2 separate regions of the Homo sapiens genome follow, and region 2 is linked to region 1. Evidence: fine-mapped expression QTL. A gene starts in region 1. The other region holds a variant in brackets. All regions are shown on one strand. Distances are from middle to middle.

Region 1 (5,000 bases):
CCAGGATGGTCTCGATCTCCTGACCTCGTGATCCACCCACCTTGGCCTCCCAAAGTGCTGGGATTACAGGCATGAGCCACGGCGCCCGGCTGCAAAATGTCTGCAGCATAGCAAAATCTCAATAATTATTTATCACTCATGATAATTACCTGAATACTAAAATCAGAGAGAGTACATTAAAAAGAAACACAACGAACCATTCTTAAATAATAAAAACATATTCATCAGTGGTCTTTATTTACTAGCACCAATAAAAAACTAGAAGCTCTGTTTAGCATAGGAAATTGGTGTCATACTCACTTTATAATATCATCAGTGCTGGGTGGGGACAAAGCCATAATCTGCCAAAATCTGCACCATCCTTGCCAGGTTTGGGAGTTCTGTAGAGTAGTTACCACTGCCAGGTCTGACTGCCATAGCTCAGGAAAAGGGTGCAGTCATTTCTCTTAGCATAATCTTGAGAAGATGTCTAAGAGACCTATGTAATATTAAGTCACAGAAAGAAACAATATTATTGGTGGTTTAGACATGGAATGTAATAGCTAACAATTACGGAATGCTTACTTGTTTCAGGAACTGACGTGTTATCTCATCTAAACAATGCTACAGAGCATGGGTACTGTTATTAACCCCGTTTTACAGGAAACCTAGGTTTAGCAAGGTTAAGGAATTGCTTGAGATAACAAAGGTAGTAAGAGGCAGGGGTGGAATTTGAAGCCATATAGTCTGGTTCTTCAGGGTGTATACATCCGTGTATCTATAACCACAATGCTGCAGGGGCACTCGAACAGGCTGGAAAAGAATTATTTTTCTTTAAAGGGCAAATTAATTTCCTCAAAAGTAATCTCTGTTCACTTTATCCCATACCAGATGCTTATTTTCATTTCATATCCTAAAAGTTAGATTGGCACTTACATGCCAACTTAAAATACCTTTAAGTCTTTAAAATTTATAGTATTTTAGAATTTATCATAGTGAAACATGTACAGTCTGTTAGTCCCCAAGACAATAAAATAAGGATGATAGTGACTGATACTCCATTCCCTTCCGATGTAATGACAAACACGTAGAAACACTGTGTTTCATTTATTGGAATTATTTGGATCCAAAGGATTGCTTTTAATACCTTAACAAAATAGGTCATTAAAAAAAATCAAGTGCCTTTCAGTATTCTTCCAAGTTTCAATAACTGATCTTTTCCATTAAAAAACTTTTGATTCATTATTCCAAATCAACATATCATCTAAATATTTACACATAGTTAGATGTAGCTTTTCCCTAACCTACTCCCTTTTATTTATTAGTACTCATTTACATCTTAGTTTGCCACATTTACAGTTCTTTGAAAGTTTCATCTAATATTCACCAGACCATTCACCTCACAATTTTCCTCCCTCTTTCTAAATAGGTGAATTTGTTTACTGCAAAATCGATGGCTACGCTATTAAAGGTTACTATCACGATTTTAAAAGACATGATCACCATCATTTACCAAGATTCTTACCACAAGGAAATGATCACAAGGTTGGACAAACAGGCTCCAACTCTTAAGGGAAAGGGCTTGCAGTTAGATCACACAGGGCGGGCAGGGAAGCAAGCGGGGAGGGGTAGGTCGGAAAAGGCAGTGCTTGATTCAATTCAACATTCACTGCGCCACTTACCAAGAGCCAGAAAAAGAAAAAAAAAAAAAAAAAAAGCCAACCAGCTGGGCGTTATTTCGAGCACGGGGCCCTGCAGGTGGGCCTGTGGGCGGGGACCCGGCGCCCGGGAGGGAAGGGGCTGGCTCAGAGACTATAGACGGGCGGGGACCGCCCCGGCCCGGGCCTCCAGCGCCCGGCGCCCGCACACTCGCCAGCCCAGCTGCCGGCACGCCGGCCAGCCAGCCGCTGCCGCTTACCAGTGGCGCCTCGCTGACTCCCCGGGGGCAGCTCTTCAACGGTTCCCGCAGTCAGAGCACCACCCCGCGGTGGGGTACCTCCAGCCCGCCCGCAGCTCTCGGTCCCCGCCGCGCCGCCACTCTCGCGAGAAGCCAGGAAGTCCGCGAAGTGGGGGGAGGAGGAGCAGGGAGGGGCACTTAACGGTGGTGGCTGGTTCTGCGCCGGATCCGGGAGAGGGGCGGGCGCCATTGTGCTTCGCTGCCGACTGCATTTCCTCAGTCACGGGCCTAGAACTCCAAGGAGAAAGGCGGCGGTGCGTGTTGCTGCGAGTGGGACGCGCACTGGTCGGTGCCGGCTCAGGAGCCGGGGTAATGAGCTGCGGAGCTAGTTCTTCTCCGTCTTGGGCGCTAGTTCGGGACCAGGCCGCGAGTGGGGGAGGGGAGGAAACGAAGAGGCCTGGGGACGCGGAGGCCGCTTCCTCTCAGGATGAGGTGGAGAAGCTTGGTCCGGGGCCACCGGGGCCAAGGGGCCACAGCGCAGGCCTCCCTTGCCAGGGGCCTTTGGTCGGGTGGTGGAGTTTGTGGCGGGTGCAGGGGACAGATTGTGTGTCTTCCTCAGGGACGTGTGGCGGGTGACGGGAAGAAGCCTGAGCCCTCCTTTGGCGCGGGGCGGCCTCCTCTTGGGCCGTGGGGCGGGGGGTCTTCGGAGCCCTGCGGGCCGCGGGTGTCGCGCGTGAGCTCGCCGGTGAGCGCGGGGCAAAGGCGGGCAGGGCTCCGGCTCGGCCAGCCCGGCCTCGAGTCGAAGTGACTTCGGTAGCCCCTTAGATTCGGCCAAGATTGTCTTATTGGTAACGTCAGTTTTTGAATATCGTGACGCCCTGAGAGTTATTTTTGTGTTGTGGTGAATTGTGGGTTCTGCAACTCGAAGTAGGTGATTGTATTAAAAATGGACCTGTTGGCCTAAGAAGTAAAAATATAGAAGGCGCCGGGAGTAGGAAACTCCCTCATTTTGGTGAAACTGCGTATTGAAGATGTGTGTCCACCCCCTCACCCCAAAATGCTGCACTTAATACTTTTTCTCAAGTACCAAAGTAAATATATTGGGAAAGTCTATCTGGGTAATAAATTCGTCACGACTAATGTTGTTTGTTACTATTAGTTAAATGTGTGAAAACTGAAATTTGGCGAGGTTTTCTCCCCCATTTTGTAGGATTGATTAGCTATTTTTCTGATTACATGTTATTTTAAATCTCCACCTTTCTGTCCAGAACCAAGATGTAGGATTAAAGATGAATTTTCGATTTAAAAATCCAATAGTATACAGTTATTAAGAAGGCACACATGTAGTGTAACTAGATCTTTTACTTGAGGTAGCAAAAAGTTTGTTTGAGAAATGAGGTCAGTATAATATTTTTATTTAACAGCTCTACAGCATTTTGGGAGACAGGACTGGTGCATGAGGCAGTAGCACCAGACTCAGAAGACCTGGGTTTGAGTCTTGATTTTTGCCATAGTTATTTAAGTTCACGAGATTGTCTCAGAAACATGGCAGTTAATTTCTAGAGAGGATTAAATTTGCTGAGGTGGTGTGTGAAGCAGTCACTAGGGGACATAATACTAGTCTTGGTTTTTTTCCAAGTTTAGTGCTGGGTCAGGTGTCTTGAATTAAGAATTCCTACTTATTCAAGTACAAATGATTTCTTTTTTCTGCCACCTGGAAGAGGGCTATTTTCCCAGATAAAGCACGAGGATGCCCAGGTTATGTTCTACATGAAGGTGTCAGGTAACGAACTTGGACACAAAAGTCATCCATGACTCTCATGTAGCCAATTTTTAGTCCGCTCCATACCCACCTTACACAACTCTTTTATCTGCTCTATGTTCAAGAATCGTCTACATTTTGACATTTTATTGTAGGAAAATAATTTTATAATGCAAAATCTGTCAAATATCTTAAAACTTTTTTAGATAATTTGTAATTTGTTGTAGTCAAATTACAAATTATGGAGAGCTTCACATTACAAGAATGAGCTTGACATGGCATCTGCCCTCCACAACTCACTGTTTAGTCATCAGACTAATGTATAAACAACTATTATTATCTTAATATGACTGTACAGTGGTTCTGTGGGAGCATAGGGGAGGGGTGCTTAATCTTGGAAATTTTACAGGATTTATTTATTTATTGCCTGAACTAAGATGTGAAGGCTCACTAGGACTTTGATAAAGAAACTGCAAAGTCATGATATTATGGTTTGTTTTAGGAATTCATGATTTGTTCCTGTAGCTGAAACATACATTGAATGGTAAGTTAGAGCCCGACATAAAAGACTTTCTGTACTGTACTAGAAAATTAGTGTCTGGGTGTGGTGGCTCACTCCTGTAATCCCGTCACTTTGGGAGGCCAAGGTGGGAGGATCGCTTAAGGCTGGGAGTTCAGCCAGGCCACAAAGACCCCATCTCTACGGGCATGGTGGTGCGGGTGTAGTGGTGCGCACTGCTACTACTAGCTACTTGGGCTGCTGAGGCAGAACGATCATTTTGAGCTCACGAGTTGCAGAGACTGCAGTGAGGTATGATAGAGCTCCACTGCACTCCAGCCTGCACCACAGAGTGAGACCCTGTCTCTAAAAAAATAAAAATAAAGTTAGTGCTCTATGCTGCGGAATGGAGAGCTATTGTGTTCCTTAACAAAATAAAAATAATTTTTAGATAATCTTTGCTGATACATCCTTCTGTTACCACAGATAATTAAGTGCCAGTAATAAAGAACAATGGGACATGAATGAATGAAATGCACAGCGTTGCATTAGACTTTACTTTTAAACAACAAATTAACTAATGAAGCTTTTAACTGTTAAATAAGTGAATCAACTGATCACATTAGAATGATTACAATTTAAAAAGAATCGGATTTTGAGTTCCTACTAAGATTACTTGAATTCACCAAAGCAGAATTCAATTGCAGTCAAAAAATTTATCTTAATATACAGCATTTGCTAATCATAGGATGAGCCAAAAAGTCTGAAGTTGGGGAGAATGAAATTATAATTTGAGAGTTTAGGTGGGGGGGGTAATAATTTTGTGTGTGTGAGTGTGTGACAGGGTCTCACTCTGTTTTTTA
Region 2 (5,532 bases), 110 kb after region 1:
CATCATGACTTGAGAGCCCAACCCATAGTGGAAATCCATCACGTTTTACAATATCTTCCAGAAAGAGCTGGCCATTTTGGTTGTGAACGCTTGCCAAGTGACCTCCACTTTGAGAACACATGTTTAATGCTTCATACCATGTTACCTTTTTTTGAATAACACTGTAAATACCATCTTCATATGGCATAAACTGTGGCAGTGTAGTATTATATTCTTCTTTGTAGTCAACTATAATAATTAAAAGCACTGGTGATTAAAATTTAAATTATTTCAAATACATCTTTTGGATGAGACAACATGCAATCATTTCAAAAGTTAAATAAAACTGGGTTTCTTATTAATAAGGGAGGTCAAATGTATATTTTATTTTTCTTACTGGTATGACACATATCTTAGGCTCTTAAAGTTCTCTGATTGATATTTTAAAAGGCATAAACATTTTCTTTGATTTAAGAAGCTCATATATTAGTTGGAGACAGAAACAACAATGGCTGAAATGATGGCAAAACTGTTAACCAGTAGGGTATGTGAAATTGGTAGAGATTCATTTGAATGAGAAGAGTCAGGAAGACTACTTGATAAACCAGGTCTCAAGGGTTAGGTGAAATTAAGACTAAAAAGAAATAAGGGAACCAGAAAGTAAGGAAGTGCTTAAAACAAGCACAAACAGCAAAGCCACAATGACGAGGTTATTTCAAGGGACATGGGAGCCAAGTGAAAGAGCTCCCAAGGGCCAAAGCTGGAAAGACTTAAGCAAAATATTACAGAATGCAGTATGTTAGATTATAATCCAAAGTATAAAATAAATAACAATGAACCTATACTAGGTCTAGAGGATTGGGGGAAATCAAGAATAAAAAGAAGGTAAGGAGAAAGTATGGAAGTGCTACAAACAAACAAATAACAAAAAAACTACAATGATGAGGGTATAAATAAATGACTGAATAAATTTAAAAATTGGGGCCAGGTGCAGTGGCTCACGCCTGTAATCCCAGCATTTTGGGAGGCCAAGGCGGGGGGATCACCTGAGGTCAGGAGTTCAAGACCATCCTGGCCAACATGGTGAAACCCCGTCTCTACCAAAAATACAAAAAATTAGCTGGGCATGGTGGGGCGTGCCTGTAATCCCAGGTACTTGGGAGGCTGAGGCAGGAGAATCGCTGGAACCCAGGAGGCAGAGGTTGCAGTGAGCTGAGATGGCGCCACTGCACTCCAGCCTGGGTGACAGAGCAAGACTCCATCTCCAAAAAAATAAATAAATAAATAAAATAATAAAATAAAATAAAAATTGGAGAAAATAGACAAATATCCTGTGCAGAAGAATTTCAAGTAATTTATATCGATACTCCCCTCATAGGAAGGTGGAGGATAACTTTCTACCCTATTAAGTGTGGACTCAACATAGTGACTTCCTTGGAAAGAAGACAGTATGGAAAGGAGGAAAAGAGGTAACTTTGCAGCAGAGAACCTAACAAACACTACCTTGGGCCAGGTGGCCAGTGATAAGTCATATGAATAGTACATGCTGTCCATGTGAAGTGAGAATGCTCCCTCACATCTTTGGTCTTCCCTCAAAAACTTATAACCCCAGTTTAATCATGAGAAAAACATACGCCAACCCAAACTGAGGGACGTTCTACCAAATACATGACCAGTGTTCCTCAAAACTGTCAAGGCCAGCAAAAATAAGAAAAGTCTGAGAAAACAGCCAGCCAAGAGGAGCTTAAGGAGGCAGGAGAACTAAAGGTTAGGTGGGATCCTAGAAAGAAAAAGTATGTTAAATAAAAACTACAGAAATTTGAATAATGTGTGGACTTTAGTTAAAGATAATAATGGATAAATATTGGTTTATTAGTTGTGACAAATGTACCATACTAAAGTAATATGCCAACAGTAGGGGAAATTGATTGTAGGGTAGATGGGAATGCTCTGTACTATCTTTGCAACTTTTCTGTAACTCTAAAGCTATCCTAAAATGAAAAGTTTATTAAAGATGTAAAAAAAATAAAGAAAGAAAGAAATTGGAAAACTTCTTGGCAGAAGGAAAACATAAAGGTGCAAGTATGAGGATGGGCATACACTGTGCCTGGGACAATGAAGAGACCAGCTTGATTGAGAAAAAGATGCTTTGCTGAGCAAGAATGGGGAAAAACAGGGAACTGGGAGAAGGCCTAGAAACTGGGGATAGAGACTAAGTTTCTAAAATGTCTCAAAAGTTTACATGCACTCAAAGTAGGTTAGAATAAGGAATCCCTGGAGGTTGCTGGTGGACACGGTCTTGGGAAGTGACTGCGGCGCTGTAAGTGAGCCAACTAGCCAGCACTCCACCTTTACGGGCTCCCAGTGAGCAGGGAGCTTTGGGCACAGTGGGAGTAATGACAGTTTTAGGGCACAGTGGTAATAATTAACAGTTTTTAAGCTGTGAAAAAATTAAAACTAACATATATTTAAAAATAGATTTATTTAAAGATTAAGCAAGGTGGAGAGACATTCACTTTGCACGGAATGTTAAAACTCGTTCCCCAAACACTTTCTTATTTATATAAACCCTATCCATTTTTCAAACCCCAACCAAGTTTCACCTCTTCTTGAAGCCTTTC[CT/C]TTTTTTTTTGTTATTCCCCTTTCCAATGTATCGGTTTTGACTTCCCCACAATTTAAGCCTGTATCAATTAATCTAAGACCAATTTACATTAAACAATGATAAGGAATTTAATGCTGTCTCCACAACTACATTTTACTCCTTAGGGTCAAAACCTTGACAGCAGGGCCCGTATCTTTTCCTTCCTCGATAACCTCTGTAACACCTCGCACAGGACTGAATACAGAGGAAGCATTTGATTGTATGATTCCCACTGGTGGAACTAATAGCCTTATATTCTTTCCCTGGAGTGAAAGAAAACTCTATATTTTACTATACTTACCCATTTCAATTTTACAAGCAAGAATGCTGTGCTGGTGAAAATAAACTGCTTCTTCAATAACTTTAAAGGTTTGAATATCCCAGAAGCCGTCAGTACTTAAACCAGCCAAAAACTTCTCATTTTTTATAGTTGGTCTTCCTGCTCTCCAATGTGTATATGACAGTGGGGTCTTATCAAACCACATAAGAGACTTATCTAGAGAAGAAACATTTTTTCCTATGCTTAGAGATTAAATCAAGACTTGAATTACACTTATACAGTTAAGATTTCAAACTTGACTAATTTTCTCTTTTCCCAACCTTCTAAAAGGTTGTATGATTATGTATAACCCTTTAAGATATTTTCTGATTATAACAGTAAATCATGCTCATTTTTAATTTGAATATAAATACAAACTATAAATATTGACCTATAATTCCACCATCCTTCAGTAATAACATTTCATTTTTGTCATCAAATATTCTTTTCTTGAAGTCATTATATGAAAAAGATACTTGCACATGCATGTTTATAGCAGCACAATTCACAATAGCAAAAATATGGAACCAGCCCAAATGCCCATCAATCAACAAGTGAACAAAGAAAATGTGGTAATGTGGTATATATGTACCATGGAATACTACTCAGCCATAAAAAGGAATGAAATAATGGCATTCGCAGCAACCTGAATGGAAATGGAGATCATTATTCTAAGTGAAGTAACTCAGGAATGGAAAACCAAACATTGTGTGTTCTCACCAAGTGGGAGCTAAGCTATGAGGATGCAAAGGCATAAAATGATACAATAGACTCTGGGAACTCGGGGGGAAGAGTGGGAGGGGATGAGGGATAAAAGATTACACACTAGGTACAGTGTACACTGCTCGTGTGATGGGTGCACCAAAATCTCAGAAGTCAACACTAAAGAACTTATCTATGTAACCAACCACCACCTGTTCCCCAAAAACCTATTGAAATAAAAAAATATTATTTTCTCTTACATATACGTTTAATTGCATGGAAATGAACATAACTATTTTATTTATTTAAAACATGATTGATAAGTTATAAAAGTCACCACAGAAATCTCTTCTCTGGACATAAACTGTTCACAGTTGTGCATACTTATGGTCAATTAATATTTTTTTTCTTTGAGACACAGTCTCACTCTGTCACCCAGGCTGGAGTGCAGTGGCACGATCTCAGCTCACTGCAACCTCCACCTCCTGGGTTCAAGCAATTCTCTGCCTCAGCCTCCCGAGTAGCAGGGATTACAGGTGCCCACCACCGCGGCTGGCTAACTTTTGTATATTTTAGTAGAGATGGGGTTTCACCCTCTTGGCCAGGCAGGTCTTGAACTCCTGATCTCATAATCCATCCGCCTTGGCCTCCCAAATTGCTGCGATTATAGGCATGAGCCACCGTGCCTGGCCAGTCAATTGATTTTTAAGAAGGATGCCAAGACAATTCAGTGTGGAAAGAATAGTCTTCTAAACTGGATATCCACATGTAAAAAAAAAAAAAAAATGAAGTTGGACCCCTTTCTTTCACCACACACAAAAATTAAAGTAGATCACAGACATAAATATAAGCGCTACAGCTATAAAATCTTTAGAAGAAAACATGGAAGGCCAGGCATGGTGGCTCACCCCTGTAATCACAGCACTTTGGGAGGCTGAGGTGGGCAGATCACCTGAGGTCAGGAGTTCGAGACCAGCCTGACCAACATGGTAAAACCCCATCTCTACTAAAAATACAAAAATTAGCTGGGCGTGGTGGCGGTTGTCTGTAATACCAGGTACTCAGAAGGCTGAGGCTGGAGAACTGCTTGAACCTAGGAGGCAGAGGTAGCAGTGAGCCAAGATCATGCCACTGCACCACTTCAGCTTCGGTGACAAGAGCAAAAGTCTGTCTCAAAAAAAAAAAAAGAAAAGAAAAGAAAGAAAACATAGGAGTAAGTCTTCATAACCCTGGGGTAAGCAAAGCCTTCTTACATATGCACAAATGACAAAAGAAAAACACTTTTGTGATGGATTGCTGGCAAGATGGCCAAATAGGAACAACTCCAGTGTGCAGCTCCAAGCAAGATTGATGCAGAAGGCAGGTGATTTCTGCATTTCCAACTGAGGTACCGGGTTCATCTCAATGGGACTGGTTGGACAGTGGGTGCAGCCCACAGAGGGCGAGCTGAAGCAGGGTGGGGCATTGCCTCACCTGTGAAATGCAAGGGGTCGGGGAATTTTCTCCCCTATCCAAGGGAAGCCATGAGGGACTGAGCCTGAGGAACTCTGGCACAGATAGTGCACTTGTCCCAGGGTCTTTGCAACCTGCAAACGAGGAGATTCCCTCTGGTGCCTACCCCACCAGGGCCCTGGGTTTCAAGGACAAAACTGGGCAGCCATTTGGGCAGACACCAAACTAGCTGCAGGAGTTCTTTTTTCCCCATACCCAAGTGGTGCCTGGAATGCCGGTGAGACAGAACTGTTCACTCCCCTGGAAAGGGGTGCTGAAGCCAGGGAGCCAAGTGGTCTGGCTAGGTGGGTCCCACCCCTATGGAGCCCAGGAAACTAAGATCTACTGGCTTGAAATTCTCGCTGCCAGCATAGCAGCAGTCTGAGATTGACCTGGGACG

Alleles and levels. Alleles are on the strand shown, and positions count from the first base shown. SD is a standard deviation of normalised expression in the study named.
As copies of C replace CT in region 2, the expression in lymphoblastoid cells of the gene that starts at base 2,090 in region 1 goes up (small effect, 0.31 SD a copy in TwinsUK).

The links. PIP is the estimated chance that this variant, and not a neighbour inherited with it, causes the effect.
Region 2: its variant is the best candidate, but not a certain one, in a credible set for the expression of MARCHF7 in lymphoblastoid cells (TwinsUK, PIP 0.70).

The regions. Positions count from the first base shown.
Region 1 is chr2:159,710,417-159,715,416 of GRCh38, forward strand. It overlaps MARCHF7 (membrane associated ring-CH-type finger 7), which reads left to right and starts at 2,090. Exons shown (of 12, transcript NM_001282805.2): 1 at 2,090-2,190; 2 at 4,141-4,182. It also overlaps a transcript of BAZ2B not described here. RefSeq lists silencers at 1,539-2,048, 2,569-2,688 and enhancers at 1,665-2,331, 2,099-2,378.
Region 2 is chr2:159,816,805-159,822,336 of GRCh38, forward strand. LY75-CD302 (LY75-CD302 readthrough) reads right to left here. Exons shown (of 38, transcript NM_001198760.1): 29 at 2,922-3,116; 30 at 2-228. It overlaps LY75 (lymphocyte antigen 75), which reads right to left. Exons shown (of 35, transcript NM_002349.4): 29 at 2,922-3,116; 30 at 2-228. Among named protein-coding and RNA genes, the nearest start is that of CD302, 21 kb to the left of the region's middle. The variant CT/C (reference allele first, on the strand shown) is at 2,601.